Homo sapiens: one gene and its partners. The protein of the gene in region 3 interacts with the protein of the main gene of each other region in a pairwise test. Each region holds a gene or a part of one and is shown on either strand. Other genes may lie near its edges.

Region 1 (7,108 bases), about 120 Mb from region 3:
TGGAACCTTACCCAACATTATCTATGAAAATTAACTCAAAATGGATCAAAGACTTAAATCTAAGACATAAAACTGTAATACTCTTAGACGAAAAAACAGGGCAACAGGGCAAAAGGCTTACAGCACTGAATTTGGCAATGATTTCCAAATGCACAAGCAACAAAAGAGGAAACAGACCAACTGAACATTATGAAAATTAAAAAAAAATTGTGCATCAAAAGACAGTATCAACAGAGTAAAAAGGCAACCCACCGAATGAGAGAAAATATTTGAAAATCATGTATCTGATAAAATCTAATATCTATAATTTACAGATAACTCCTTTAACTCAACAATAACAAAAACATGATTCAAAAATGGGTAAAGGACTTGAAAAGACATTTTTCCAGAGAAAATACACTAACGTCCAATAAGCACAGGAAAATACAGTCAACATCACTAATCATTAGGGAAATACAAATCAAAAGTACAATGAGGGACCACCTTATACCCATTAAGATAGTTACTATCGAAAAAAAAATAAGTCTTGGCAAGGATGTGGAGAAACTGGAACCCTTATGTATTGTTAATGTGAATGTAATACGTATGGTACAGCCTCTGCGGAAACAATATGGAGCTTCCTAAAAAAAAATTAAAAACAGAATTACCATGTGATCTAGCAATTCCACTTTCAGGTATATACCCTCAAGAATTCAAAGCAGGGTCTGGAAAAGATATTTGTTCACCCATGTTCATAGCAGCATTATTCACAACAGCTAAAACATGGAAGCAACCCAGGTGTCCAATAACAGATGAATGGATAAGCAAAATGTGGCTGACACATATAAGGGAATGTTATGTGACCTTAAAAAGAAGAGAAATTCTGGCATATGCTACAACAAAGATGAACCTTGAGGACATTATGCCAAGTTAAATAAGCCAGTCAAAAAAAGTCAAATACTGGATAAGCCCATTTATATGAGGTTTTGGTTCTTTACCACTTTCCAGTAATATGAATACAAACACTTCCGGTTTCCAAAACTGGAAACAAAAGGTAGAATGGTGATTGCTAGGACCTAGGAATGGGGAAGGGGAATTATTGTTTAATAGGTATAGAGTTTCAGTTTTACAAGATAAAAAGAGTAATGAAGATAGATGGTGTTGATGGTGGCACAACATTATCAATGTAATTAATACCATTGAACTGTACACTTAGAATGGTTAAGATGGTAAATTTTATGTTACGTATATTTTACTACAATTTAAAAATTGGAAGAAACAATTCTGTGATCCCATAAAAATAAAATGAGGGAAAAAACTCTGAAAAACAAATTAATAAATAAAAGAAGAGATGATGGCGTGCGTGTGTGTGTATTTAACATCTGTCCTTTCCATCTCTTTTTTCCCTATATTCATGACTTCCACAAATCACTACTCCATATAGAGTCTCTCCAAGCTTGGCTTACTTGCTAAAATCTGGTTCCTTCATTCAAATAGCTTATGAATCCTATGCAATCTATTCTTGAAAAATACACGAACTGCTGACTAAATGGTTAAACTCCCTAAAGCTGTTGCCTAAACTCCAAACCACAAATATTTTTATCTTATATTGCTATAAAGTACTTGCACCAGCACAGTGGCTCACACCTATGATTCCTGAACCTTGGGAGGCTGTGGAAGGAGGATCGCTTGAGCTCAGGACTTCAAGACCAGCCTGGGCAGCACAGTCAGACAAAAAAATTAAAAGAAATAACCACACGTGATGGCGTGTGCCTGTGGTCCCAGGTACTCTGAAGGCTGAGGTGGGAGGGAGAATTGCTTGAACCTAGGAGGTCAAGGCTACAGTGAGTCTTGTTCGCACCACTGCACTCCAGCCTGGGCAACAGAATAAAAATCTGTCTCAAAAAAATACTTGCCCCAAATATGATATAAATTTATTCAAGTCAGCCAAAAATGTTTTAGTTTATTAGAGAGCTAAGTCAAGAAATTTGTCAGAAAAACAAAACAATGAGAGCAAAACGAAAAAGAAATAGTGAACATAAATTTCCAGAAATAGATGTATTTCATTTAAATTGTTTAAAAAATTATTTAAGTAAAATAATTCAAGAAAAAGAAACAGAAATTAAATGCATAATTCTTAGACTTTAGTATTAATGATTTTGATGCATTATCATGGGTCAGTCAATGGAATAGTGCCAGTTTCCAAATCTGAATCAAAATGAGGAAAAAATTAGTTGTACATTAGCAGTTGGTTAAATAATAAACCATAAAGTTACAAATCTGAATGACTAATTTCAACACACTGTGATTAAAGATTTGGTAATTCAATGTTTTTATATTGTAAAATGAGGAAGATATCTTTTAACCTAGCAACAGTAAACACACAAAACATTCCCCATTAAAGTGACCATATGTAATAAATTATGATCAATGTTTTGGCTTATCTAGAAGTTACTATAATATTTTGTGGATGGAAGTAATTGATCCAAGGGCCCCAAGTAATATTAGTTAATTTGCTGTAACTTATTATTAAATGAAGTTACGCTGCACCCTAATTCCTGATGTACAGAAACTGATAATATTTGTTGTTTTAAGCTGGGGTAAATTTGGGGGTAATTTGTTACCCAGCAATAGACAACTAATGAAGTACCTCATCAGACATATTGTCAGGTTAATTGGCTAAAGATGAATTTCTGACCCAATATGAAAAAAATAATAAAACTTATGCATTCTTTATTCTGAAACCTACTCTGTTTCACATATCATTTTCGTGAAGGGTAGAGTTGAGAAGTGTGTAGAGCTCCTACCTCAGAAATACATTACTTCAAACATTAAAAGAAGGAAGAGGAAAGCTGAAATAGAAAACATAAATTGTCTTCACTTTACCGTAATAAAAATCATGATATATTCATTTGTGGATATACACCTAGGAGCCTTGAAAATGAATATTTTACTTGTAAAACAAGTAGAATCAATTATTTTATTAGTAAATTCATACAGAACCTAAAAATAAAACTAAAAAAATTAAATGACTGAGGATTGGGATCCATTTATGTGATTTTGCCAAATAAATATTGAGAACCTTCTACGTAAGAGATTAGAACCCAGTCGCTGAGAAACAAATAAAAGACAAGTTTGACAAGTTTTATAACCCAAGTTTGACTACTGTAGCAGCTAGCAATCCATCGTGATCTTAACTATACTTGTGTTTGCATTCATATTACTGGAAAGTGGTAAAGAACCAAAAACTGTCTAGGAACCAAAATAACACTCGACCCGAAAACCAACACTTGGACCTGAAGAAAGTAACCCTTGTCATTTCTCAGGTTTATTTCACAATGACGCTGGGTTACTACTTGGAGTCCTAAACCGAACTACACCCCAATGGCCTAGAAACAGAAGGAACACACCCAGTTCCGCCTCCTGACAGTGATTCCTCACTTTAATGAGCCACCACTACTGTCACTCAAGATGCTTCGCACTGTCATTGGTCGCAAACTCTTGCTGGTCGGCCAGTTTCGGCCAACTGGCAAGCACTGGTTGTCTTTATTTTCGAGAAAAGTGAAGGTGAACAGGGAAAAGAGACAAGAGATCTAAAATATCTAGGTTGACTCCTGTACCTGAGCGACCTGCGATCTCCACCGCCGCCGCGACGAATTGGCCTCTGGGCGGGGACTTTTAGCCAAAAGGAAAATGGCTCAGCCGGGAACTGGTGCCCAGGCCATGGAGAAGCTGATTCAAACTTTACTTGTCCACACCGGTAGAGGTGACCGCGATGAGAATACCAGAAACAGCACTACGACCCTCAGAACTCAGGGTACCTCCAGCTGCAGGGGCCAGAACTGCCGACTATCCCAATTTTGACGTTTCCTATTGTTGCCGGAAGTGACGTTAGGCTCCGACTCTTAACGGAGACGCATTTTTATTTCTGTTGTTTACGATTCGCTATAGATTCCTTGTTTCTCACTTCGTAGCACGAGCCACTCTGACCATCAAGATCAGAAAAACTTCTCAGCTGCAAGTTAGAAGTGGACTGGCCATTGAGGAGGCTCTCAGCGGAGTCGCTCTTCACAGGAGTCTTGAACGCGGTGTGGAATCGGCAGCGAGGAATCCTGGAGCACAGAGAAGCTCCCAGCTTTGAAGGTCTTGCGGTGGTGCGTGGCGGGCAGGAACCCACAATTCCAAATACAAACGGTCGGCGCGAGAAGCGCTTCTGGGCGCAGGCGCCTGGCTGTAGCGACTGGTTGCGGGAGGCTGGACTCTGGTGACTGTGTATGGTTGCATATGCTCCGTTTTCCTCTCCCTGTCGTGCTGGGCCTTTGAAACCGGCTTCTTTGCTGGTGGCTGCTTGGTGAGCCCCGAGGAGACGGCAAGGCTGCGCCTGGTATTGGGCGGAGGTCGCCTCTCTCCGCCGTCCTTACAGAGACCCCGGGCGGAGACGAATGACCAGATCCGCCTTTTCATTCTTTTAAATCAAATGGCGGGAGGGGAGCCTTGCTTATATACCCAACTAGTATATGCTTTTAGTCACAACGAAGTGGGAAGTATCGTGGTAGCTCATCCTATCAGAATTAGGTTGTGACTTAGGGTTGGAAAGTTATAGGCTTACTGATTCCTATTGGATCCTCTGGGGTGAGGATACAAACGGCTCCTGACTATAAGGAAGACAGGACAGCAGTTCGTGTTTTCCTTGTTGGCATTTCCCCAGCTTTTCAAATATTTCTCCACCTTTATTGAAGGCTACAGATTTTTCCCTCACTGTAACAAGTTAATCTTGAAGTTGTTATTCTCTTTTACTCTGGAATTATGGCCATGCTAGACTGTTTTTTTCCCGAATTATCTGCAGACCTTTTAATTTTATGTGTGAACACAGCAGTCCCGTTGAACTCTTTACTTGTCCCTTACTCCTCCCCACTCCCGCCCAGCTTTCTCGATGCTTTGCCTTTCTCAGACCTTTCTCCTATCTCTTAGAGAAGTATTTCCCTAATATCTTTTGCAGTTTCATAAACTGTTTTTCTCATCTTTACTTTTTTGTTTTTGATACGTGTTTTTAGATAATATCGAGCATTATGTGCTATGTCACAAACTCTTAGCCATTGACTGTTATTAGAGTCAGTGTAGTTGCTTCATTCTAAACAAAAATCACTCTGGTCCAGTGACATTCTATTGGGAGGCATTGTTTTAATGACCTCTAACAGCAATGAGATTGAGCGATGTTGAAAATCCTAAACTGCTAGAGTACACTATTTTCACAACCTCTCCCACAAGTTCAATTGCGCAGATCTGACTTGTAGACAAGGAAGGAAGCTAGAAAGGAATATTGAGAGCTTCTTTATTATTGAATCTATGCTGCAAGCTGAGTGGTATCTCCTTTTTTCCTTAGTTTGCCTTTGATCAGTGCTATAAGTTGAAAATGTTAAATTTTTAAAAGTATTTTTCATTAATGAAAGTAAGGTGTTAAAATGTACATAAGTAATAGATTGGCTTCTTTTAATGTCTTGTTTTTAAGGCTTTTGAATTTTATAGTAGACTTAGTAAAGCCCTTTGTGAGAATGTAGAGCAGTAGCTGTAATTTTATTCTGTGATAATCCCAATTTTAAATCCCTTTATTTTTCTGTCTCCTATCACTTACCTCGTTCACGAGCTCTGCTTGTATTACTCTTCAAAATATTTATTCACTGGTACTGAAGAGAGACATAACTTTGTTGTCAGAAATTCCATTATCAGAGGTAGAAATCATGTAAGAGACACTGAAATGTTTTCCAAAATGTCAGAAAAAGGAAAGGTGAGAAGATATCATAAAGTGTTACGTAAAACAGAATTACTTGCACTGGGAAAATGGAATATACATCTGGAAGGACTAAAGGAAGTCTGGAAAGACATAGAATTTACATTAAAGTTACTGGGAAGAAGGTATCCCTAGAAGAATTGTGTTACGATAGATGGGTCTGGAACCCGAAAGAAGCTCAGACCTACTATATTGGCCAGTGGCAAAATCCAAGAATACATTTTTTGCGGTTAAAGCCAGAGTAGTCCTCACTTCATGTTTTTCAGGAAAGTAAAGGCTTATCTTGGGAAATCCCTTTTAGGCTTCCGTGTGTCCATCTACCCCCAGTCAGTCTAAAGGATATTAAATAGGGTTTACCTTCTTGGCCAGTGTTTTGTATAATGTGATTTCAGGATGACTTTCTCTTTTTCTAGTTATCTCCCATTTGACAGTACCTAAAATTATCTCTGTCTAGAAATGTAAATGTTTAGTTGAAGTAATTTATTGGCTGAAAAATAGTGACTAAAATGTGCATGCACAAGTCTATAAAGTATATTCAATAAGCTGTTGCCTACCATGTTGATAAAGGAGACTAGGAACAGAAAGGTAGGTTCATAAAGAGGGAGCAGTTGCTCTACCCTGGGGAAATGGCTGTGGAAATGAGTGGCGAGGGGCTTAAAGTAGGAAGCTTACTAAATTTAGGATTTTGTAAATCGGTGACCTTCTTACCTTTCCTTATTTAAAGATAGAGAAACGGTGTGTAAAGGGATGATTTGTATCCTGGACAGCTGGGTAATGCGAATTGGAGGAAAAGATCACACTAACCCAGCTTCACCTGATTTATGAATTGTTCTGTTTTCATTTTAATATAATGACTTCATTTTAATGTGATAACTTCATTTTAAAGGAGCTTCATTCTCAAAGGGTTCATTACTCAAGGTATTGTTATGTATTACTTTTCTTCTATGAAGTGTCCATGGACAGTTGTGGTAGATGTTTTTATGTAAGTTATTGAGTTTCACGTTACTGGCTGACTAGACTTTTATAGTTCAGAAACTTACCTCCTTCCAGCAAAGGTTCTTAATCGTTTATATACCTATTTATGACTCTTCTTTGGGAAAAATCTCCTTTGATAATCTAATGAAAGTCCCACTCCATGCAAGAAAATTAGTCATTTAGAAATAAATTCCATGCTATTACTTTTGGGGCAGTTTTTAAAAAATGAATCATTTTGTTTAAAGTCTCAGTTCGTTCAAATCTTTTGGTTCACGTATGTGTTTTTCTGTTGTGTACATTCTTCAGAGTCATATTCCTGTTTCATAGGCCCCATGTATGTCAGCTTTTAGTAGGTATCACCAGTAA
Region 2 (7,027 bases), on a different chromosome or scaffold from region 3:
TGAATTTCATTAAGGCATTGTTTACTCCTAGATCATTAATGAAAGAGCTACACCAGGTCAGACTGAGCTCCAATAGCACCCTCCGGTGCCTCCTTCATCCTTCCCAGTTGCCTTTTCTCCTTCCCCTTTGTTTGTGCTTGTTACTCAGAAGCAGTGAATTCCTGCTGACAGCACCCGCCAATTTGAATTCCCAGGAAGATTTCAGGAGAGTCTCTGTTAAACAGTATGCAAACATACTACATATGACATCTTCTTTATCCTCTTTGCTGTTAACGTTGTAATTCTGTCAACATCAATCACATTTACCTTGTGAATTATCCTTTTACCTGTTAGTATTTATTAAAACCACCATTGACTTTGCCATGGTACCAGGGAGCTGAATTAATTTAAAATAATGATAATGAGACTCAGCCTTGTCATCTCATATGAAAATCAGTATCATATTTGGCTTTTCCTTCCAGAATCCTGGGTCCTCTCAACTTCACATGCTTTAATAGTACCTCAGATGGCTGAATGTTCTCTGATAGTAACCCTCAGTAATGTTGGCAAAGTTGGTGTTTAAGAAACTTGGTCAGCAGGCTTGGACTCTATCAGCAGTGTTTGGACATCTCTTCTGGGCTGTGGTAGCCACATTTTTCCAGGGGTGGAGAGACATCAGTGTGTGTCAGCTAAGCCTGGCTAGTTGCTGTTCAATCCCATCCCCAAACTCTTTGGATGGGAAACCACACCCCCAGTAATTCTATCCCAGAAGGTCCCACCCAGAGAGACCTGTTGCTACAAGTCCTGTAGCACTAGTAAGAGATTTTGGTCCTTTCACTTCCCCTTTTCCTTTTGCCCTTTGGCCTTTGCATTTTGCCTCCCTTCTTTCAATTGTCCCCTTCCCCCATGTTCTTCACTTGCCACCAGGTTGGTGATCTGACAAAGACACAGTTGTTGGCAGATTTCAGGCATTTTCCTTCCAGGACCACTTATATTTACCAAGGAGGGCACCAGACCTAATGCTAAGGAAGAATTCCAATCCACAGATGGGACTTCAGGCTTCTGTGAGGGCGATGTTCGTGCCCATGGCCCTTCCTGGATCCCTGTCACTAATGCATCATTGGGTTACAGCTATGAGCACATTTCCCCTGAGGACAGAGTCTCTTGGCACCTTTCTAGCACCCGACAGGAAGGCATGATGAGCCCATGACCAACTTATTCCCCTTCTGCATCAGCTTCATATCTCATTCCTCCATGAAGAAGCCAACCTTTTTCTTTCCTACCTACTGGATCTCTATGTGAGGGCATTTCCTAGAGACCAGAAAAGAGACAATCTTTTATTTTCATGGTCAGTTGCACCATGCTACACAGGCTGTACCTCCCAGGCTTAGGAGAACATTACTGGGGTGTTCTTGGGGCTTTGTATTGGCATAGACCTCTTGTCAAGGGCTAAAGGATATCAGGGCAGGTTAGCTTGGCCCATGAAACCAATCCAGTGATACCACTGGTCGAGGAGTCCTACTGAGAAGGAACTGGCTTCTAACATAGGCCAAGGAGGTCTGGAATCCTGGAACTGCATATGTTCGCTGAGCTCAGATGCTTAGTTTTTGGGTAGCCCTTTTGTAAAGAAATATACTCCACGTTGCATAGCGCTTTAGGCTGGGTATGTTTAAACCTTACCAGTAGAACTGACCATCTGTTTAGTCTTTATGACAGCTTGGCTACCACTTTCTTGTCCTCTGGCAACCCCAGGAAGTAGGCAGAGCAGCCATGTTTAGGCTTATTTTAGAGGTGACATTCTGAGAGGCAAAATGACTTTCTCAAGAGCAGTCAAAGGAAGGACTTTTGAGCCCAAAGTTACTGGAAATTTAGGGCGTTTACCCTCGTTGGATTATATATTCAAGATGATGAAAGGGACCACTAGCGTGCTTGTGTGCAGGGGGTGGTGGGAGCTTCCTCTAAGGGAGTACATGGATGAACCTAGGGGTTTGTGGAATTCACGTGAGGAAAACTCCATGCTTATAGATTTTACATCATACCATAACAGCTTTGCCCTGGGACTATTTTAAAGTCTTAAAATATGAATGGAAATGAGGATATAGCTTATCAAATACACTAACTATATTAAGGCAAAAGAAATGGCCATTTTTGTAGGCCAAAAATGGTAAAATGTTAACAGTTTCTTATGGTTCAACCTAGTATTTCCTCCCAATCTTTCAGTGTATTTTGGTTGATTCAGTTATTGCCAAGGACTCATTAAGCCTCCACCACATGTGAAATTTGCTTTCTAATTCCCAAGACTTGGGATGTCACAAAAACAAGGGATAGGTCACTGTGCTTAGATAATTGCAACTTACTCATATGGGGAGAGGACAGGCCTGGTTGTAAGAGAACCATTGCAAAGTAATGATATTAGCACATGCAAAATAAAATGTCTGAGCATTGTGAAGTGCTAGAATAAACATGGAGTTTGGAGTCAAATATCCTCATTTTAAACCCTGGTTCCACTCCTTTATCAGCTATGTAATCTTATGCAGAATCATGCCAGTTCTTTGGGTAAGATATTACATATGAATACAGAAATCAATTAGCATATAACCTGACACATTATAGTCACTCAGTGTTATTTTTTTTCTTGTTCTATATAATCTTTCTCTAAAGAAATGCTAAGCAATGTCTCTTCTAAAAGCCCTTCTTGTATGTCTGCAGCTCTTTATAAACAAAGAAAATGTTCCGAGTCTCCTTTTATTTCTGAACAACAAACCCTCTGAGAGAAGTAGGGCAGATGTTGGTGAGGTCGTTATAGAGGGTTGTACAGGTTGTGCCCTGCAGTAACAGTGAATAGCGCCTTTTAGAGTTGGGCATTTCAAAAATATATGGGTTGGCCCTGATTCATTCATGTCAACATCCACATTTTCTAGGAACTAAGGCACAGAAATGAAGTGACTTTGTAAAGGTCATGCACTCATATAGTGCAGAGCCAGAATTCTCTGGAGATGTTATCATTTCTAGTCCCCTATTCCCCACACCTTGCTGCCTGCGTTAATGCTTCCTGCATTTTGACTTCTCTCATTTGCATCAAGAAGTAATTGGTGCTATTCACTGATTCTTCAAATCAACTGGAAATTCCCTGAGGGCAGGGTCTGTGAGCTTGGAACACAGTACGTGCCAAATTAATGTTAGTTGATTCACTGACACTAATGTAGGGGAAAAATTGGTGCAATAACATCCTGAGTGGGTACATGACTAGGGTGAAGAATTTTCACAAGGCCAAGAGCTTTCCTTTAAGGATTAAATCCAGCTAGCTCTGATCAGAATCAGAGAAATGCTACAGGAAAAAACAAGTTTGTTCTGGATCAATGTTTTCCTGAAGTTCAATCATGATCCTTGTCATGTCTAAAAATGCCTGTATATTTAATATAGGTATGTTTTCCCATTACTCATTAAAATAAGTATATGACTACTGAAAAATTTTTAAATGTTCTAAGAAATTAAGCCATGAGGAAACACTGCACTTGACCACTTTCTTGGTCCTGTCTGAGGATAGGAGGAAAGATAATAGGACTCAGTCATTGGAGAAGAATTTGGTTTCCTGTTGAGAAAGTAAAGGGGACTTATTTGTCCATCAGCATTTCCTGGATTAGGTGCTGTGGGCATGGAACAAGAGAAGGCACAAAGCCTGCTTGGGAAGAGTTGGCCATTTAGGGGAGAGGACGAGATGCCAACTAGGTTGGTAAAAGAGGGCTGCTGGGGCCATAGTGGTGCCAATTTACAAATGCAAATCCACTGGACCAGAGACAGTTAGGCCAAGAGAGCACTTAGAGATAATGACTCTTACCCTTCATTTTACAGAAGTGGAAACTAAGGTCAGAAAGTGAGTGGATATGAGCAAGATCACCTGAATGTGTGAATAAAGACCAGGGCACAAACACCCAGGTTGTCCGTGGCTAGGGATCCACCATATGTTAAGGTTTTGTTTAGTGTATTTCTGTTGAGGGGATGACAGAATGTTCCTTGGGTACCCAGTGTGGAAGGTGGATGTAGAACACAGGCAGCTGAATGCCATGGGTTAAAAGCCATCATGGCCAAATATGGACAGGTAGAAAGCATCCATGATTCCTCTTTGGACCCTTAGTTGGATCAAGAAGATTGTCTCTCTGGCTGAAACAAAACGATCGTTAAAAAGAAATGAGAATTGGGGAAATTTGAACATGGGCTCAGTATTCGCAGATATTGAGGGATAATTGTTAAATGTTAAAGGGTGATAATGGTATTGTGATTCTGTTAAAGAGGCACATATTTATATATTTGTGGATAAGATGACACAATGTCACTTTGCTTTAAGATAACCTAGCGGTAGGGGAGTGGTTGTGGAATCAGGTTGAGGCCTGGTGAAACAAGTGTGGCCTTGATTTGATACTTGGTGAAGCTGAGTGATGGGTACATGGACATTTATTAGACTATTCTCTCTCTTTTTGTGTATGTTTGAAATTTTCCATCATATAAATTGAAGGAAAAGATATCATGTTCCCCAAAGTACTGCAGGACTTTTGATAAATCCATGGTGGTTTCCCATGTGTGTACTTCACACATAGAAGGTCAGGGAGCCAGAAGTGGGTTTGTGTCTTAGTGAAGGAGCTAGTGCTGGTTATTTAACATCTCTGAGTTTCAGTTTCTCCATCTGTAAAATAAGAATAGTAATAATATCTTACATGTCAGTGTGGTGAGGATAAAATGAATTTAGTAGGTAGAATGCTCAGCTCACGGCCTAGCATGAAATTGAGGCTTAATATTTGTTTCCTTCTTCCATTTTCTTCTCAGGACTGGGATGCACATGTTGACTAAAACCACATTTTTCCATGTTGATAGCTTCTGGAGTCAAATCCTGCTGAGATAAAGTATTAGTTCTAGTGCAAGGATGGAGAGAACCTCTTAAGATTCACTCCTGCCAGGCACGGTGGCTCATGCCTATAATCCTAGCACTTTGGGAGGCAGAGGCAGGCAGATCACAAGGTCAAGAGATCGAGACCATCCTGGCCAACATGATGAAACCCCGTCTCTACTAAAATACAAAAAATTAGCCAGGCGTGGTGGCACGCGCCTGTAGTCCCAGCTACTCTGGAGGCTGAGGCAGGAGAATTGCTTGAACCCGGAAGGCGGAGGTTGCAGTGAGCCGAAATCGTACCACTGCACTCCAGCCTGGGCGACAGAGTGAGACTCCGTCTCAAAACAACAACAACAACAACAACAAAAACCACCACCACAACAAAACATTCACGTCTTTGGCTTTGACCAGTCTTCCCAGAAATCCTGGATCTCAGGACCTTAAACCTATCAGAAAATGGTCTAGGTTATCCACAGTGAGGTTCATTCTGATCACAGACAGCTACAGGAGCCAATCTGCTTTCCCAGTTGAGAAATGTGAAAACCAGGGAGGCTGAACTTTTTTAAACTAAATAAAATTCCGCTTGCAGAATGCCCTCATACCCTTGCTATCTGGAAGATTGAGCGTATCCTTACAAAGTTAATGACATGTGCTTATTGCAAAGTTAATGGCATAGAACTGCATCTTCTATTTATCTAGCTCTTTAAGTTTTAAAGAATTCTAACCAACTTTATATACCATGCAAATTGTGTTTCTCTCTCTACATACACCCACACATATATATATAATGTAGTTAGCCTGACTTGTTTTTTATTTTCTCTATCTGTACGGTTGTGAAAGTAACCTAAGACATAAGGAATTGATATCTGGAGAGCATTTTGATATACTTGGATGAAGTACTTTTGGTGTATTTGGAAGTAGCTATCATGATCTGTTTACTTAAATTCATGGCTGCAATCATCACCTCTTCTCTAGTGTGCATTCTACTTGCTCACTTCTTTTTGAATACATCTTATAATTCTTGCATTAGTGAAATCTACTCTTCTTGATAATAATACCTTATGGTTCTTTGGCACTGTTGGTTTTAAAAATATTTTTGCATTCATTATCTCATTTAATCCTCACAACAGTGTTGTGAACTAAGCAGGGCACATATTATTTCTATTTTACAGGTATATTTCATTGACTTTTCAATGTTGGAAGGTGCCTTTAAGATCATGGAGCCCGACTCCCTCTTTTTCACTCGTGAAAAGTCTGGGTCTCAAAGAGGATAAGAGAGCTGTCTGGTTTCAAAGTGCCCATCAGTGACAAAATCAGGATGAGAATTCTTGTGACCTTTCAGTCTGTAATGCTGGTGCAACCCTCACTTAAGCAAATTGCCTATTCTACTTGACTTAGATCTGTCCTAACCACCTGCAGCCAGGAACACCTGAAGGAGCTGGTTAGAAATGCAGATTCCTGGGCCACACCCCAGTCTGAGTAAATCAGACTCACAATGGGAGGCTCAGAAATCTGCATTTAAAACTCACTGGAGTTATTTTTCTGTACTGGGATGTGTGAAAGCTACCAGCTCATTGGAGTTAAGCTCTGTGGATCTGAGCCCCGTTTTATGCTGTGGTCTTGAGGTCTATGGCCACCATCATGAATTCCTCAGGGTCCTTGACTGGCTTTATCACCACATGTTGAACGCTCATTGCTCAGTGATATGTCTGGGATGGGTTTTCTTTCTTTCCAAAATTATTAGTTAGACTCTGCTTTGAGTCTAGCATTGCATTAGAAGCTGGGGTGAATGTTTAAGGGGCTGCTAGCAGAAAAGACTCAAGGGTGGCTAAGAGTGAAGGATATGCCCAGATGGGCAAGAGAGAAGGCTGGGCTGACCAACGGCACCGCCATTTTGGACACAGCAATTTGGGTGGCTGTTTGGATGATTCATGCTGCTTCTCTGCTCATGCTAAGTGTGAGTACACATCTGTGGGTGGTGGCCCTTGAGAACAGTGTTTGTTCCTCCTTTAGGGTGACAGAATGTGCCAGAGCCCATGCTTAGTGCTTTTGTACATTGCCTTTTTTAATCCTAAAAATGTCTCTATGAGGCAAGGAGTAAATGCAATTATCCCAATTTGAAAATGTGGAAATTAAAGCTCAAATAACTTGCTCAAATTCTTG
Region 3 (7,027 bases):
CAATTTTTCTTGCTTTAAATATAAATGGGAAGAGCTATTAGAACAGTTGTAGTAAGACTGGCTAAATTTAACACCCCCTCCTCCACCTTTTTTTTTTATTAGGTGCTGATCAGAGCAGTCTTCCCTTACCAATTTGAAAGTAATTGACCATGTAAACTGAATCATCTGTAGTCTAGATCAGTCTAGAAGGATATAGATCAATCCATATGTTTTTCACAGATGTAACTTTTGAGTAGCCCTTTACAATTGACTATTTCTGCTCTTTTTTTCTACTTTAATATATTACAGTATTACTGTTTATTTTAGAAACTGGTATTCTCACGTGACGTGATTGGCATGTCATTGTGGTGATGTGAGAAAGAAAGTTACCTTCCATTCTCTAGGTTAGTCTCTAGGCATAATCAGATTTTTGTGACATAGGATGCAACATGTTTAATTTGCCTAAAGTCTGCTTTAAAGTGGCTTTTAATGCAAATATTTTCCTTTTTTTAAATACAAATGTTTTCATCGTGACCCCCAAATCAGACTTACTTTTTATACTTCTCTCATGATCAGTATTCTTTTCTGACATTCTTCTGTTTAAGTATAATATTTCCCTTCATTGTTAGATTTCTAGGTAGCAATATGGGGAAATCTTGTGCAGAAGCATATTTTGAGGAAAGTGGTATTGGAAGGAAGGAAAATAAATGATAAATTCCTGTTATTGCATAGTATTTAGGTACATGTAACCTAAAAGGCTTACAGTCACCATTCAATTAAAAGTAGATTTCCTTTTTGCTTTCATGGTGACTTCTCATATAATTGACGATGAGGAAAAATAGTTTCTAAAATAAACAGTAATACTGTAAAAAGACTATTAGGTAGTCTTGACCAGATTGGTTAATATTTTAAAATTATGGAGTTCCTTATGCTTCAAAATATATTTGCAAAATATGTTGATCATTTATTGAAGAGTTTCGTTTTTCACAGTGGTAACTCTAAAGGATGTGTCAGTCTAAAAGTTAGAATTTAAAAGTAGTTTTAGGCCAATATTTCCTAGGTAATCTGTCATTATAACAGACATTATTTGCTCCCATCTCCACTTTCTACCCTTCTTGTATCAGAATCAAACTTGGGGCTTTCCTAGAGTATGTATAATCTTTGACTTCTAACTCAAGCCCTATCATAGAGCCAAGTTATTTTGCTGAGGTTTGTTTCTAATGTTATTCTCTTGTAATTTTACCGTGTCTTCATGTACTCTCTTCTGAGGTGTAATCTTACCATCTCCACAAATAATTCCTTATCCTTCAACACCAGTTTTTATCAATGGCTGTCGGAAACCACTTTTTGCTTGTTTTCATTCCAGATATGTTATGGAAGATTAAAGATTTAGAAATGTGACTTGAAAATGTTTGGGAACTACACTGGGATGGAATATGACTTTTGAATAAGAGACATCACAAGAACACCTTAGTGTTTATTGATCTTTCAAATGGTAGAGTTAGTAAAAAATTGTCTTGAAATGTGTCAGTATTTCAGGACTGCTGCTAGATGCTGTGGTTAGCAGTAAGAGACCTGAATGTGAGTTGCCAAATTACAGAATCATGTCAATAAAACAATTTTGTTAAACTTTATAATTCCTACTTCTTTCTCCCACCCAGCATAATATTTAAGACACATTCTATTTATTTCTAAAGATTAAGCTTTCTGTTTTGAAATTTTTGAAGGCTTCATTGATGTATCTCCACAGGCTATAAGTTCTTGAGGGCAGAGGTTGTGTCTATTGATCTTTCTTTACTATTTAATATAGTGTCCAGAATATTATAGTTCCTATAATATTTTCTAAATGAATGAAGTAATTGTATACATCTTTGGATTTTGTCAGAATTGCCAAATGAATCACTGTTTTCTTCTCTGCACCTCCGAACAAAGGCAAACAATGTTCTATAATAGAATACTTATCACACTGAAAAGATAAATAGCTCCTCTGTTTTAAAAAATGAAATCTGGTAATTGTGAGGAAATTATCAAATTAAGGTAGATTTTTTTTTTATAACTTTTTTTTTTTTCTCCAGAGATTTTTGTTTTCTTTTTTTAGAGACAGAATCTTTCCCTGTCACCTAAGCTGGTGGGCAGGGGCCTGATCACAGCCTACTGTGGCCTTGACCTCCTGGCTCTAGTGATCCTCCTTTCTCAGTCTCTGAAGTAGCTAGAACTACAGGTACACGCTGCTATGCCTAGCTAATTTTTTAAAAAAATTAGTTTTTTGGTTTTTGTAGAGATGGGGCTTCACTGTATTGCCAGGCTGGTTTTGAACTCCTGGCTTCAAGTGTTCCTCCTGCCTCAGCCCCCACAAATGCTGGGATTGTATGTATAAACCACCATGCGTGGCTTCCCAGAGATTTTTCTTATTCCATATAGTTTGAGAGGAAATTAATTTGATTATAATTTGGTAATTTGATATAATACATATCTTTGGTAATGTGAAGAAAAAATTCTATGCATTTTATTTGGACCAACTACTAAAACTTCTTAATGCACAGATTTTCTTGAAGAAATGAGAAATATGATAATTAACTGAGGTTTCAAAGTTTTTACTGTATTTGAATTTGAGAATTTATATGACATTTGGTCCAAAGAGTTCAGTGTTGGATTTTTGCCTACCAAGGGATATGAAATTGATTAGTACTTAAAATTTTATATGACTAGCTAAGTGGAAAAGAGGGATTAAATGGTGAAAAGTAAATTATATGTAATTATTATGATACTAATCAAATACTATTCTAAATAATTTAAATAAATAATATTACTCTAAAGCAGAATTCCAGCTGGAGTTTATACTGTCAACAGGTTAAAGGCCCAGGATATTAGGCCAGCTGTATACTCAGAAAGAAATCTTTCAAATCTCTAATAGCTGTGTCTGGCTTAGGTTTCTAATCTGCTATAAAGCTATTTAGATTTTATTAATAAAATTAAGCTTTAAATATAACATGTAGCAACAGATGCTCTTAAGTATCCTTCAGGTATCTTCTGTGTAAGATTGTGTGTGTGTGTGTGTGTGTGTGTGTGTGTGTGTGTATGTGTGTGTATGTGTGTATGTGACTTTTGACCCAATCAGAATATTGGGTCTGGAAGGGAAGAGTCTAGGGATTTTTATTTTTGGTAGGAGTGTTATGTGATTCTATCAGACATATTTGGAAAGTAATAGATGGTACTGTGGAAAAAGTGTGGTCTTTGATATGAGGCAGATTGGTTTCAATTCTCAGTCACTTCCTGACAGTAACCATAAGCAGATTAACCTTTCCGAACTTCAGTTTTTTCATCTGCGAAAGAGATAATATCCACCTTAGAGGTTACGTGTGAGAGTCAGAATTTATCTAATTAATAGGCATTCAATAAATTATTACTTATGACATATTTTGATGTTTAACCCTGCATGCACATTTTTTTGGTTATTCTTTACCATTTTGTGGGAAGTCAGTCTAAAATGTGAAGTATGCTTTTCTGCTTTAAAACAAGATTCTGAGCATAGCTCAGAATTATCTAATTGACTAGAGGAATCATTTAATCAAAAGCGGCTATCAGATTGATACACAGTGATGCCTTAGTGGCCCTGAGGTATGTTGGAGTTTGAGAACCTTCTCTAAATGGCACTTTCATTTAAATTTCATATGTGGGCTGTTCTTTTTGGTTTGCTTTCTTCTGTCTTTGTAATTGGTCAGCTGTTCTTGGAAGCAAAACAACCAACCAGCCTTATTAGAACTGCATATAAAGTAAGAGAAGTTCATCCTGATTGTTGAATGTAGATGCTTGGGTTTTGATGCTTGGGTTTTACAATATTTATTTTGTTTTCTCAGAGTATTTTTTGCTTAATCTTTGATTATCAGCTGTCTTGTTGAGGTTTCCTGATAAGTAATTTAATGAGTATTTGTTAAATGCCCATTTTTCTGCCAGGTATTGCACAAAGCTCTGGGTATATAATGAAACCCAAAATGAAACACACATAGTTTCTGCCCTCATGGAGTTTACAGCTAATAGACAAATTTTATCTGATAAAGTTGCACTGAAGGAAATGGATGAGATCCTGTGATTGAAAATAATGTGATTAGGAAGAACCTCTCTGAGGAAGCTAACATTTAGGAAGGATGAGAGTCCTGTCAGGAGCCCCTGGATCTGGAGAACAGCAGGTGCCAAGACTCCAAGCCAAAACAAGCTTGACTTGCCTGAGGAACTGAAAGGATACCTCTATATTATGGCTAGAATATAGTGAACAAAGGGGATAATGTCTTGAAATGAGGTTGGAGGGTTCAGTAGGGGCCAGAAAGGATTGTAAAGGAATTAGAATGAAATTTAGAAGGTTATAGAAGCAGCTTCCATAAGACATGATAGTGGCCCCAGCTAGGGTGTTGATCTCTAGATTAAAGGAGTTATTACAGTTCTGTGTGTAAACCATCAAATTTCACAGCTTTTCCTATGAGGTATGGAAATACATAGCAGTGGCCACTTTTGCTGTCTAATTCCTCAGTTCTTATGTTTGTTTTGGTCTGTTTATTTTTTAATTTTAGCTTTGTGTAGGCTGAGGTTAAATAACTGGCTACCCTTACTGTTCACTGGGAGTGATTTTGATGGCATACCTGCACTTTCTGTTCTGCTGCTGGGGCAGCTAGTATGCCAAGAGAATAGCACATGCCAGAAGTAGAGAGTGTTTCCCACAAGATCATAGATTTTGAAGTGGGAACCCTCGTAAATGTGATATCCTTTAGCTGTAAGGTGTGTAGTATGTGACAGCCCTCAGTACATGATTCATTAGATTTGAGGAAAAAAATTGTGTTTTTTATATCTTACATTTAAAACTCAGTTGCATCCGTAGGAGCTGAAATGTTCTCACAGTGTCCCTGAAGAATAATTTTTTTGTTCTTAAGCTTTTTTTCTCTCCCACTATCTACTTAGGATAGAGTTGGTTGGACTTGAAGGTAACCTAACTTTGTTATTTTGATTGATAAAAAAAGTGAATGTACTATATATAGTGAGCTTCCTGCAAGAACTTCTTGTTTTATTCTCTTTGATCTTGCATTGTAGTCATAATGTGGGCCTTGGTTAGTTCAGTGGTGGAGTTCCTATGTACCCAGTCTCCTTTCTTGGTCTTTTCTAAACTGCTCAATTATAAATGTTACTTGAAATGAGTATTTTTGTTAGTCTATATTGTAAATCAATTCAACCATATATTTTGCTTAAATGAACATAATTTAGCATCATTATTTTGCTCTTAAGATTTATAGAAGTATGAAGAATATTCTAAAATATGTATAAATCAGATATACAAAAATCTTTTTTCTGTAGTTCAGAAAATTTAAAAGTTGTTAAGTTAGATCAGCTGCATCCCTATATCGCCAGAAGTTAGTTATACTGTGCATTTTCATCAGTATACACTTATATAGCTTTCACTGCTTAACAACATATTTAATCTGTTAATAATGGAAATTATAACCTTAATAATTAAAAATTGATAAAATGCTAATGCTAGATTATTATAAGACTATGTATAATGGTGAGGTTTATGATAGAGTAAATTTAACACATGCTTTGGAGAATTAAGTCTTTGATTTCACTAGTTTCCTGAATGAGATTAAACTTTCATAAAACCAGATGAACTCAAATATTGTTCAGAATGTGGTTACAGAGTTAAGATTTTTAGAATTATTCTGAAACCCAAATATACGTCTCCAACTCCAGGGTCTCTGTATCTTTTGTATAAATAGAGTATACTTTCAATTAGATCCCATCCTCCTTGAGCTACATTGATATTCAGACGTATGTTGAATCAACCAGATAAACTTAAAGCATGATTTATATGCATCAAAGCCTGTTAATTTTTTTCCATAGTTATGACTTTATCTCCAAAACTAGCTAAAAATTTGAGTTCATTGAGCTCAAAGTTCAACATTAGGAAATAAGCACTCTCTTCATGTGCCATCTGCATAACCAATATGTTCAGTTTGAAATTTCTAGTTCATATGCTCATAGGTCTTGTCATATCTGTAGGAACATAAAAATTCTCTGTATCTATAGATTTGTACAGGTGGAATGTCTCAGAATCCAGAATATCCAAAATGGAATTCATAATCTACACCCCAAATCAGCTTCAACGGCAGCCTTCCATTCTCAGTTGATGGCAGATCGAGGACCCTGTTTGTTTAGATCAAAAACTTTTTGATGTATTCTTGATTTTCCTCTTTCTCTTTCACTACATCCATTCTGTCTTGACATCTTGGCTCTGTCTTCAAAATTTGGCCCTATTTTGCCACCTACACGACTGGAGTGAATTGCCAGTCTCCCTTCTGCCTTACGCTTAATGTATTTCTTAAGTCAGTTATGGTGGCATGTACCTATAATCCCAGCTACACGGGAGGCTGAGGCAGAAAGATCACTTGAGCCCAGGAGTTTGAGACTACACTGGGCAACATAGCAAGAATCCATCTAAATTACAAAAAATATATATATATTTTTTTCTTCCCCCTGTCTCCACCTTTCCACCTTTGCCTCTCCTCTTATACAACCATTTTGGTACATCTGCTATAGTGATCCTTTTAAAACATAAGTCAGTTCAAGTCTTTTCTCTGTATCAGGCCCCTCAAAGGTTCCCCATCTCCTTCAGAGTCCTTTTAATGTTCTACCAGACCCTCCCTGATCTGGCCCATCATTACTTGTCTGGTGATCTCAGTTTCTGCTTACTATTGGCTTCAGTTTATTTTGATTTCTAATTATCGATGGCTTTACTACATCTTGACTTCAATTTAAGCCCTCTCTCTGTCAGCTCTGCATGTTACCATCTATTTGTCTTATGTTCAGATACCTCAAGAGAGAGCTGATTGAGTTAGTTAATGTTATCTAAGTTAGGCAGGACTGTTTGGCCTTGCCATTCCATGTGCTGCTACCCAGCCCAGGGATTAGCTGTTCTTAAAGCAGATGCCCACTTGTGATCTAATTAGCCAAAGTATAGGGAGTTCCTAGTTAGGCATGCGGAGTAACAGACTACTCTCTCTAGTAT
Region 4 (7,586 bases), on a different chromosome or scaffold from region 3:
CGGGGATGAGGGAGGCTGGAGGAGGGAAGTGGAGGGCATCAGGCAGCTTTAGTGTCCTGGCAATCTCGGGGTGAGGTGGGGACAGGCCCTGGCAAGATATGGAAGTCTGCACCAAGCCCTCTTCAGCCCTGGGGACAGAGGTCAGTGGGCACTATGGGGGCGCTCGGCCAGGGAGCACCTGAGCCTGCCCTGGGACCTGGGGTTGTCTTTAGACTCAGCCCAGAGCAAAGAGGACCTGGGAGGTGCCTGCACCCCATACCATGTGACAGAGGCTGGGGTGGGGACCAGGGGCAGAAGGACCAGAGGGACCAGTGCCCACCCCTCCCCATAGCCTGGCTCTGAGCTGTGCTCCAGTCCACCGCCCTGGGGCCAGGCTCACCTGTGGCAGAGTTCCCCGAAGCCATCAAGGGGCTGCAGCACGCCGGTGGACGACTCCCCGTGGGTTAAGAACAGCAGCACTGGCTTGTGCTGGGCCAGGCCCTGAGGAAGCAGGGACGGCTGTGGGTGGAGCTCAGAGGGGCAGGGGCCAGAACACCCCCACAAACCCCCCATGGGTGGCACAGCTCCAGGTAGCAGGGGCTGGGCCTGCCTCTACTCCTCCCTGATGGTGTGCATGGGAGGAGGAGGCTGGGGCATCTCCGCTCCGGGACAAGGGCTTTTCCAAGAACAGGACTTTGGTGCAGAGATGGAGGAGGGTGCCCCCAGCCTGTTGCCTGGCCTGTGAGGGCTGTTGCTAGATGGACTGAGTCCCCACACTCCGGGTAGGCTGAGGTTGACTTCAGCCCACAGGGTGGGGTATCCTGAGTGTCAGGGACATGTTCTGCAGCCTAGACTCCAACTCGGCCTCCTGCCTCCAGCCTCTCTGGCCCTGCCTACAGGACCAGGCTCCTGACTCAGTTTCCCTGCCAGACAGAAGCCTCCTTACCAGTCTTCCCACCATTCCCAGGTAATGGAACCCTCCCCTGTGGCCGCTCACCAGATGCTAGGATGGGCTGAGGGTCAGCCACCAGCCTCCCGGCCATGATCCCACCCTGCTGGCTGGCCAATTCCAGGCAGCCCCTGAGCCAGCATGCCCACTCCCACCTCCTCCCGGCCCTGACCCCCACCCCGGGTCCCCTACCTCCTCCACCTCCTGCAGTGTGTAGTGGCCTCCAGGGTCCTTGGTCATCGGGTGCACTCGGGCTCCTGGGTGCAGGACAGAGTGGGCCGTGAGTGTCCCGCACACACTGTAGAAGCCAGTGTTGGGCACCCGTGGCCCTGCTGAGCAGGGCCCTGTGAGGGCTGGACCCCACCCACCGTGGCACCCTGGCTGCCTGCCTGAAGAGGAGGGTGGACTCTGCCCAATGAGAGCCTCTCTGTGTGTAGAGCCAGGGCCATCTTGACCCCCCTGCTGTTGGAGCCAACGCTCCTGGGGCACTCTTGACAGAGCTCAGCTCAAATGCCCTTTCTCAGGCCACACTGACCAGTGCCTCCCCAAGCAGAGAGTGAGCTCCCGGGAGTCAGGGCTGCACCTGGCCCAGGGCTGGCACAAAGAGTGTACCTGGTCCAGGGCTGGCACACCACAGGTGTGATGGATGACAGACTGAAGGATGAGGGGTGAGTGAGGCAGCAGCCTTGACCTCTGTTGGAGCTGGGGACTCCAGGAATCAGGCCCTCACCCCCTCCCTGTCTCTGCCCTATCCTGTGTGCTGTTCAGGGCCAGGTTGTGGGAGGGGAAGAACCTGCGGCCAAGGGGACAGAATGGGGAAAAGGGAAGCCATATACCACAGGCATCTGAGCCTGCGTGCCCTGATGTCCACTTGGGGTCCTGGCCTCTGCCGACCCTGGGTCCCCTTGAAAAGTTTGTGGACTTGGGGTTGGGACCCTCTTGGCTGTTGCGGTCGCGTATTAACCAGCATGGCCATTGTGGAGCTCACCAAGCTGATGTCCCTCAATGCCACAATCAATCATTAAACCCAGGGCACACTCCTGCTCCTGTGTCTCTCCCAGAAAAGTGTACTCCGGAGGCGAATACTCTGCCCATACCTCCATATTTTGTGTATCACATCAAGATTCCAGAAGGAAGGCTGCTGAGATTTGAGGGGAGGCTTCAGCTTCTGAAACCCCACCCTGTCACAAAGCAGAGCTGGTGCCTGGGGCCCTGGACAGCGGCCGGGGCTCTCAGGAGTGTGTGCTGGGACCAGAGGCTTCCCTGTAGTTCCGTCCTGCACATGCTCCAGAAACAGCTCAAGGAGACTGGGGGGATCGGGGCACCTGTGCTGCTCCCAGCCCTATCAGAGTCAGGCCTCATGAGTGCCCGACACCGCCTGGAGGAGGCAGTGGGCTGGCAGGAGGTTCGTGCGCACAGGGCCACAAGGTGGGTAAGCGCTCACCCAGGAACGGGGGCTGCCAGCTTCAAACAGAGGGAGGCCAGGGAGGCCTTGAAGGATGGATCCAGGGCCATCCCCACCTGGGCCTCTCCCTTACCTATGCGCTCCCCGATGTCCACGGCTCGCTGCCCCCAAATGCCATTGGCCCCAACCAGGAAGGAGTCCCCAGGCTCCAGCACATTGACCAGGGCGGCCTCCAGGGCACAGTGTCCCGAGCCAGAGATGACCAGTGTGAGTGGGTTCCTGGTCTGGAACACGTACTGGATGCCTTCCTTGATCTCGTCCATGATCTGCATGCGGGTGGTATAGGGTGAGACCCAGGCTCCCCGCCTCCCCAAGTGAGGAGGCAGTGACCCCCTTCCCTCGTCCACGATCTGTGGGTGGGAACATGGGTGAGACCCAGGCCCCCCGAGTGACCCCCACTCCTACCTGGTACATATCCTTGCTCATGGACCCGATCATCTGCAGCCCCCCGGCTGCCATGATGCGAGGAGGCAGGTTGGAAGGACCAGGCCCCAGCAGGAGCTGGTTGGGGATGGAGAGGGGCTTGAGCAGGGCCTTGGGGGGGGTCACCAGCAGCTTGTGAGAGGCCATGGTCCGCACCCAACCTGCCGCTCGGGAACCTGGGGCTGCACTGGCCTTGGCCAAAGCCTGGAATATTTCCCAGCAGGGCGGACACAGAGGTGAGAGGTGAGGATTGGTGGATGGGCTTCCGTGGCAGCCCTGCCTTTTGTTCCCTGAGGCTTATCTGTGCTTGTGCTGCGGGTCACGGCCAGGCAGCAGGGGACGAAGCCCTCAGGCAGAGGGAGCCCCCAGGGCTGAGTGACAGAAAAACAGAGTGTGACAAAGCTGTCCTCACCCCAGCCCTCCTCGCTCCCACTCTGAGTCCTGCACGTCCAGCCCCTCTTATTCTGCTTAGCTCAGGGGTGAGAGAAGTGTTTCTTAAAGGGTCGGAGCACAGATAATTGAGGCTTGGCAGGCCCTGTGGTCTATGTTGCAACAACTCAACCCTGCTGCGTGCTTGCAAAGCAGCTGCCAGAGGTGTGGGCGTGTTCCTATAAAACTTTATTTACAAAAAGCAGGTGGCAGGCCAGATTGGGCCCATGGACTGTGGTTTGCTGACCCTGGCGCAGCTGATGGGAAGGCTTGTAAACCAAAAATAAAATTCGAAGGCCCCCCAGCAACCATCTGAATGGGGTTCCCTGTCCGCCAGGGTGCTCTAAACTTTAACCCGGAAGACGTTCAGGCCATGCCACATCATAACCCCCAGCATTAACATCGACATAGACCTTAAGTCTGATAGGAAGCATTTACCATCTATTTTCTCTCTAAATCCCGCTACCTGAAGGCATCATCTGCTCCCTGCAACCCCTATTTCATAACCCAGACACTCCTTTCTGCTGATAATAATTCTTCAGTCAGTTGCCAATCAAAATATGTTTAAATCTACCTATGACCTGGAAGCCCCCCAATTCAAGTTGTCCCGCCCTTCCAGATGGAACCAATGTAAATCTCCCATGTATTGATTGATGCCTCATATCTCCCTAAAATGTATAAAAGCAAGCTGTGCCCCGACCACCTTGGGCCCTTGTGGTCAGGGGTGCACCCTTGAGCTTGGCAAGGATGTCCTCCCTCCTGAGGCTGTACCACGGGTGCATCCTTAGCCTTGGCAACAAAAACTTTCTAAATTAATTGAGACCTGTTTGAGGTACTTTTTGGTTTACAGGCTCAATTTAGCAAGCAAACCTGCATGGTATACAGACACACACAAGGCAGGGGTTGCACAGTGAGTTTCAGCATGCTGCATTCCAGAGATGTATAGAAATTCTAGTTATGTATAAGTTTTAGGTTGAAAAGAGGCCTGGAACCAGGTGCCAACTTTAGATAATAGGGAAGTCTAATTCATTCTACATTTCTCAAATAAAGAGGCTCCCCTCCACCCACCCCACCTGGGGCCTGCTTGATGGTCTCCAGGTGATCTTTGCTGTCCTCATTTTCCCTCTGACAAATATCTTGGTGAAATCTTTGACCCTTCCTTTTCTGCCATGCTCATGTCCACCTGCTTCCTGTTGGGGTCTCAAGAAAGGGGAAACGGCACAGTGAAGAGGGGTGTCCAGTGCGCCTGACTACTTGCTGCTGAAAGGGAGTTCAGGGGGGTAGGTCACGTTTTTCCCTTTCTTGCTCTCGGTCATGAAGGGAATAAAGGGTCATGAAAACTTGTGCACGGAGGCACGTGATGGGATTCCATCAAGAAGCCCCACGTAAATGGGAGCTGCAGTTGCAGGCCGGTATTTCCATCAAGAAGCCCCATGTAAATCGAGCTGCAGTTGCAGGCCAGTGTTGGGAATGCATAGCCTTCTGCAGGTGGAATTGTTCTCATGTAGAACATAGAAAAGCAATCAGAGCATTAAAAAGGCAGGGACCAAATATTAAAAGAAAAATGACAGAAGATAAAGGTCTAAGGAATGGGGGAAGCCAAGTGATTTTTTGAAAACCAATCAGTAAAAGTTTTGGCCCAGTCTTGGTTGCTTTGGGAAAGTGTGTGTAGCCATTTGGCTTGTTTGATGATTTCTTGGGCATCGGTTTCCACTTCTCCAGACACATAAATGTAGGTGCAACGGGTCCTGTTGATGACAGCACAGACCCCTCCTTGTTCAGCTAGGAGGTAATCCAGAACTCACCTGTTACCAGACACCAAAATCCTGCTTGTGAGTCTAATGACTTGTAGAGCTGATAGATGGGTGCCAGCTTTTGCTATTTCAAGGGAGGCGGTAGGTTCTCTTACTTGTGATTTCCTGGTAAGTAAAACCTCCCCAAGGGGTAAGAGTTGTGATAGTTCCCACAACTCCGGCCACAGTAAGTCCCAGGGCCCTTTTCCTTCTAGAAGGGAATTCTGAATTAGAAGTGATGTTTAAGACAGTGATTTGGGTGGGAGCTATTGTTCCCAGGCTACAATCACCATAGTGAAGAGAATGATCAAGGTGGGATAGGGCCAAAGCTTGAAAAGGGTTTAAATAGTTTTTAGTGGGGCTGCTAAGCCATAAGAGCCCAGGAGGGGCAGGATGATTATTTTAATTAAAATGTTGGGAAAAAAGGAAATGGGCCTTTTGACAGTTTTAAGAGGACTCATATGGGGGAAAGACTATGTTTATGTACTGATGGAGGAGGTTTAAAAGCAGGCGGGTGCCAGTGCATGGCATAGGATGTAAACCAGGTGGCACGGTGGTTATTTCCTGCACTGGTTGCATCATTATAGTAACATACATGAAGGTATTAGGAGTGCAGGGGTGCTGTATACTGGGAGCCCCACTATACTGGTCCAGTTTAACGGCTTATAAATTGGCAGTGATGAGATAGAGTCAGATTTTTTTTTTTTTTTTTTTTGAGATGGAGTCTCACTCAGTTGCCCAGGCTGGAGTGAAGTGGTGTGACCTTGGCTCACTGCAACCTCTGCTCCTGGGTTCAAGCGATTCTCCTGCCTCAGCCTCCTGAGTAGCTGGGATTACAGGCACCTGCCACCACGCCCTGCTAATTTTTGTATTTTTAGTAGAGACAGGGTTTCACCATGTTGGTCAGACTGGTCTCGAACTCCTGACCTCAGGTGATCCACCCACCTCTACCTCCCAAAGTGTTAGGATTACAGGTGTGAGCCAGCGCACCTGGCCAGAGTCAGAGTTTTGATTGTAGGAGGCGAAGGCCTCAAATGAGTCAAAGTTAGCTGCATGAGTGTCATTATAACAAGGTGTACCTCCCAAAATAACATTACAAGTTAAGGAAGTTTCAGTGATATTGTAAGTGTGGATGGTGGGGGAAGTAATATGATAGCACGAAGAGGGAGGTGGTTTCCAATTTACCAGCACAGAAGGAAATGGTCGGGGTGGGAAGGAGTGGTGAGAAGAATAATGAAATCCCAACAGTACAGTTTGATTGGAGACAGGGTGTGCTTACGAAGAAGAATCTACATGGCTTGGAGTAGCAGGTTGTGGACGGCAAAGCCAGCCACACAGAGTATTTTCTCCTCTCACAATAGCATGTGAGATGCTGAAGATGATATTGTCAAACCAAGAGGATTGGGAAGTTTTTATATGAGAGATAAAGAGAAAAACATGAAAGAAAGAAAAAAGGAGTCTCATTGTTCTAATTCAAGGACTGTTACAAAAGTTGCTCCAAGTATAATTAGAAAAACCACCCTGCAAATAAAAATCTAGTGCAAGCTGAATAATTGTATGTGGGTCTTGAGAAATGGGGATTGGATAAAGAGACAGTAAATTGGCTGGGTGTGGTGGCTCATGCCTGTAATTCCAGCACTTTGGGAGGCTGAGACGGGCGGATCACCTGAGGTCAGAAGTGTGAGAACAGCCTGGCCAACATGGTGAAACCCTGTCTCTACTAAAAATACAAAAAAAAAAAAAAAAAAAAAAAAATAGCCGGGCATGGTGGTGCATGCCTGTAATCCCAGCTACTCAGGAGGTTGAGGCGGGAGAATCACTTGAACCCGGGAGATGGCGGTTGCAGTGAGCCGAGATCGCACCATTGCACTATAGCCTGGGTGACAAGAGCAAAACTCTGTCTCAAAAAAAAAAAAAAAAAAAAAGTAAGTGAATTGAGGATAATCTCAGAAAATTGGAGGACCTAAAAACGCTTCTAGAGTACATAAGGAAATGAATGACAAGGGAGGGAAAGGAAAGTGAATGATAAACACAGCAAAAGGCTTACGTGGTATCCTTTGCTTTTGAAGAGAGGTTAGTGTCACCTGGTTGTTTGCAAAACAAAAATCATAGATCTTCCAAGGGCTCAAAGTGTAAGCAGGCTGGAGTTCTGGCGGCAGTACAGACTTTATGTGGCAAAGGTGGACCCAAGGGGAGAATCCCTGCAGTTAACAGCTGTGGGAGAGGCTATGAGGACTTGAAAGGGTCCAGTCCAGAGGGCTGGAAGGGGTTTTCTGTCTGGAGGCAAAGTTTTTAAATATACCCAGTCCCCAGGTTAACAGGAGGTCTTAGTTCTGATGAGGAGGGGTCAGATTTTGGACAAAATTTATCCTGGTATTCAGTAGTGGCCTGGATAGTTTGCCCAGGGAGGCATCACATTGAGACAGATAATGAGCCTCTGGATCAAGTAATAAGTCCGTTTGTAAAAAGGGGCATCCATAAATAATTTCAAAAGGGCTAAGGTGGGTTGAAACCTTTGGGAATTACTCTAGATCTTAACAGGGCAATA

Evidence for each region.
Region 1: the proteins of CHIC2 (region 3) and CEP44 interact in binary tests that used the Homo sapiens proteins (3 or more experiments, as listed by UniProt).
Region 2: the proteins of CHIC2 (region 3) and CBY2 interact in binary tests that used the Homo sapiens proteins (3 or more experiments, as listed by UniProt).
Region 4: the proteins of CHIC2 (region 3) and AGXT interact in binary tests that used the Homo sapiens proteins (3 or more experiments, as listed by UniProt).

Annotation. Positions count from the first base shown.
Region 1 is NC_000004.12:174,279,811-174,286,918, forward strand, and holds the start of CEP44 (centrosomal protein of 44 kDa), read left to right. Parts: upstream 1-4,100; 5' UTR 4,101-4,133; exon of another isoform or gene 4,134-4,330; intron 4,331-7,108. UniProt on the Homo sapiens protein: Centriole-enriched microtubule-binding protein involved in centriole biogenesis. In collaboration with CEP295 and POC1B, is required for the centriole-to-centrosome conversion by ensuring the formation of bona fide centriole wall.
Region 2 is NC_000013.11:45,705,318-45,712,344, forward strand, and holds part of CBY2 (protein chibby homolog 2), read left to right. Parts: intron 1-7,027.
Region 3 is NC_000004.12:54,054,590-54,061,616, reverse strand, and holds part of CHIC2 (cysteine-rich hydrophobic domain-containing protein 2), read left to right. Parts: intron 1-7,027.
Region 4 is NC_000002.12:240,864,243-240,871,828, reverse strand, and holds the start of AGXT (alanine--glyoxylate aminotransferase), read right to left. Parts: upstream 3,006-7,586; 5' UTR 2,964-3,005; coding exon 2,799-2,963; intron 2,660-2,798; coding exon 2,467-2,659; intron 1,186-2,466; coding exon 1,121-1,185; intron 481-1,120; coding exon 380-480; intron 1-379. UniProt on the Homo sapiens protein: Peroxisomal aminotransferase that catalyzes the transamination of glyoxylate to glycine and contributes to the glyoxylate detoxification.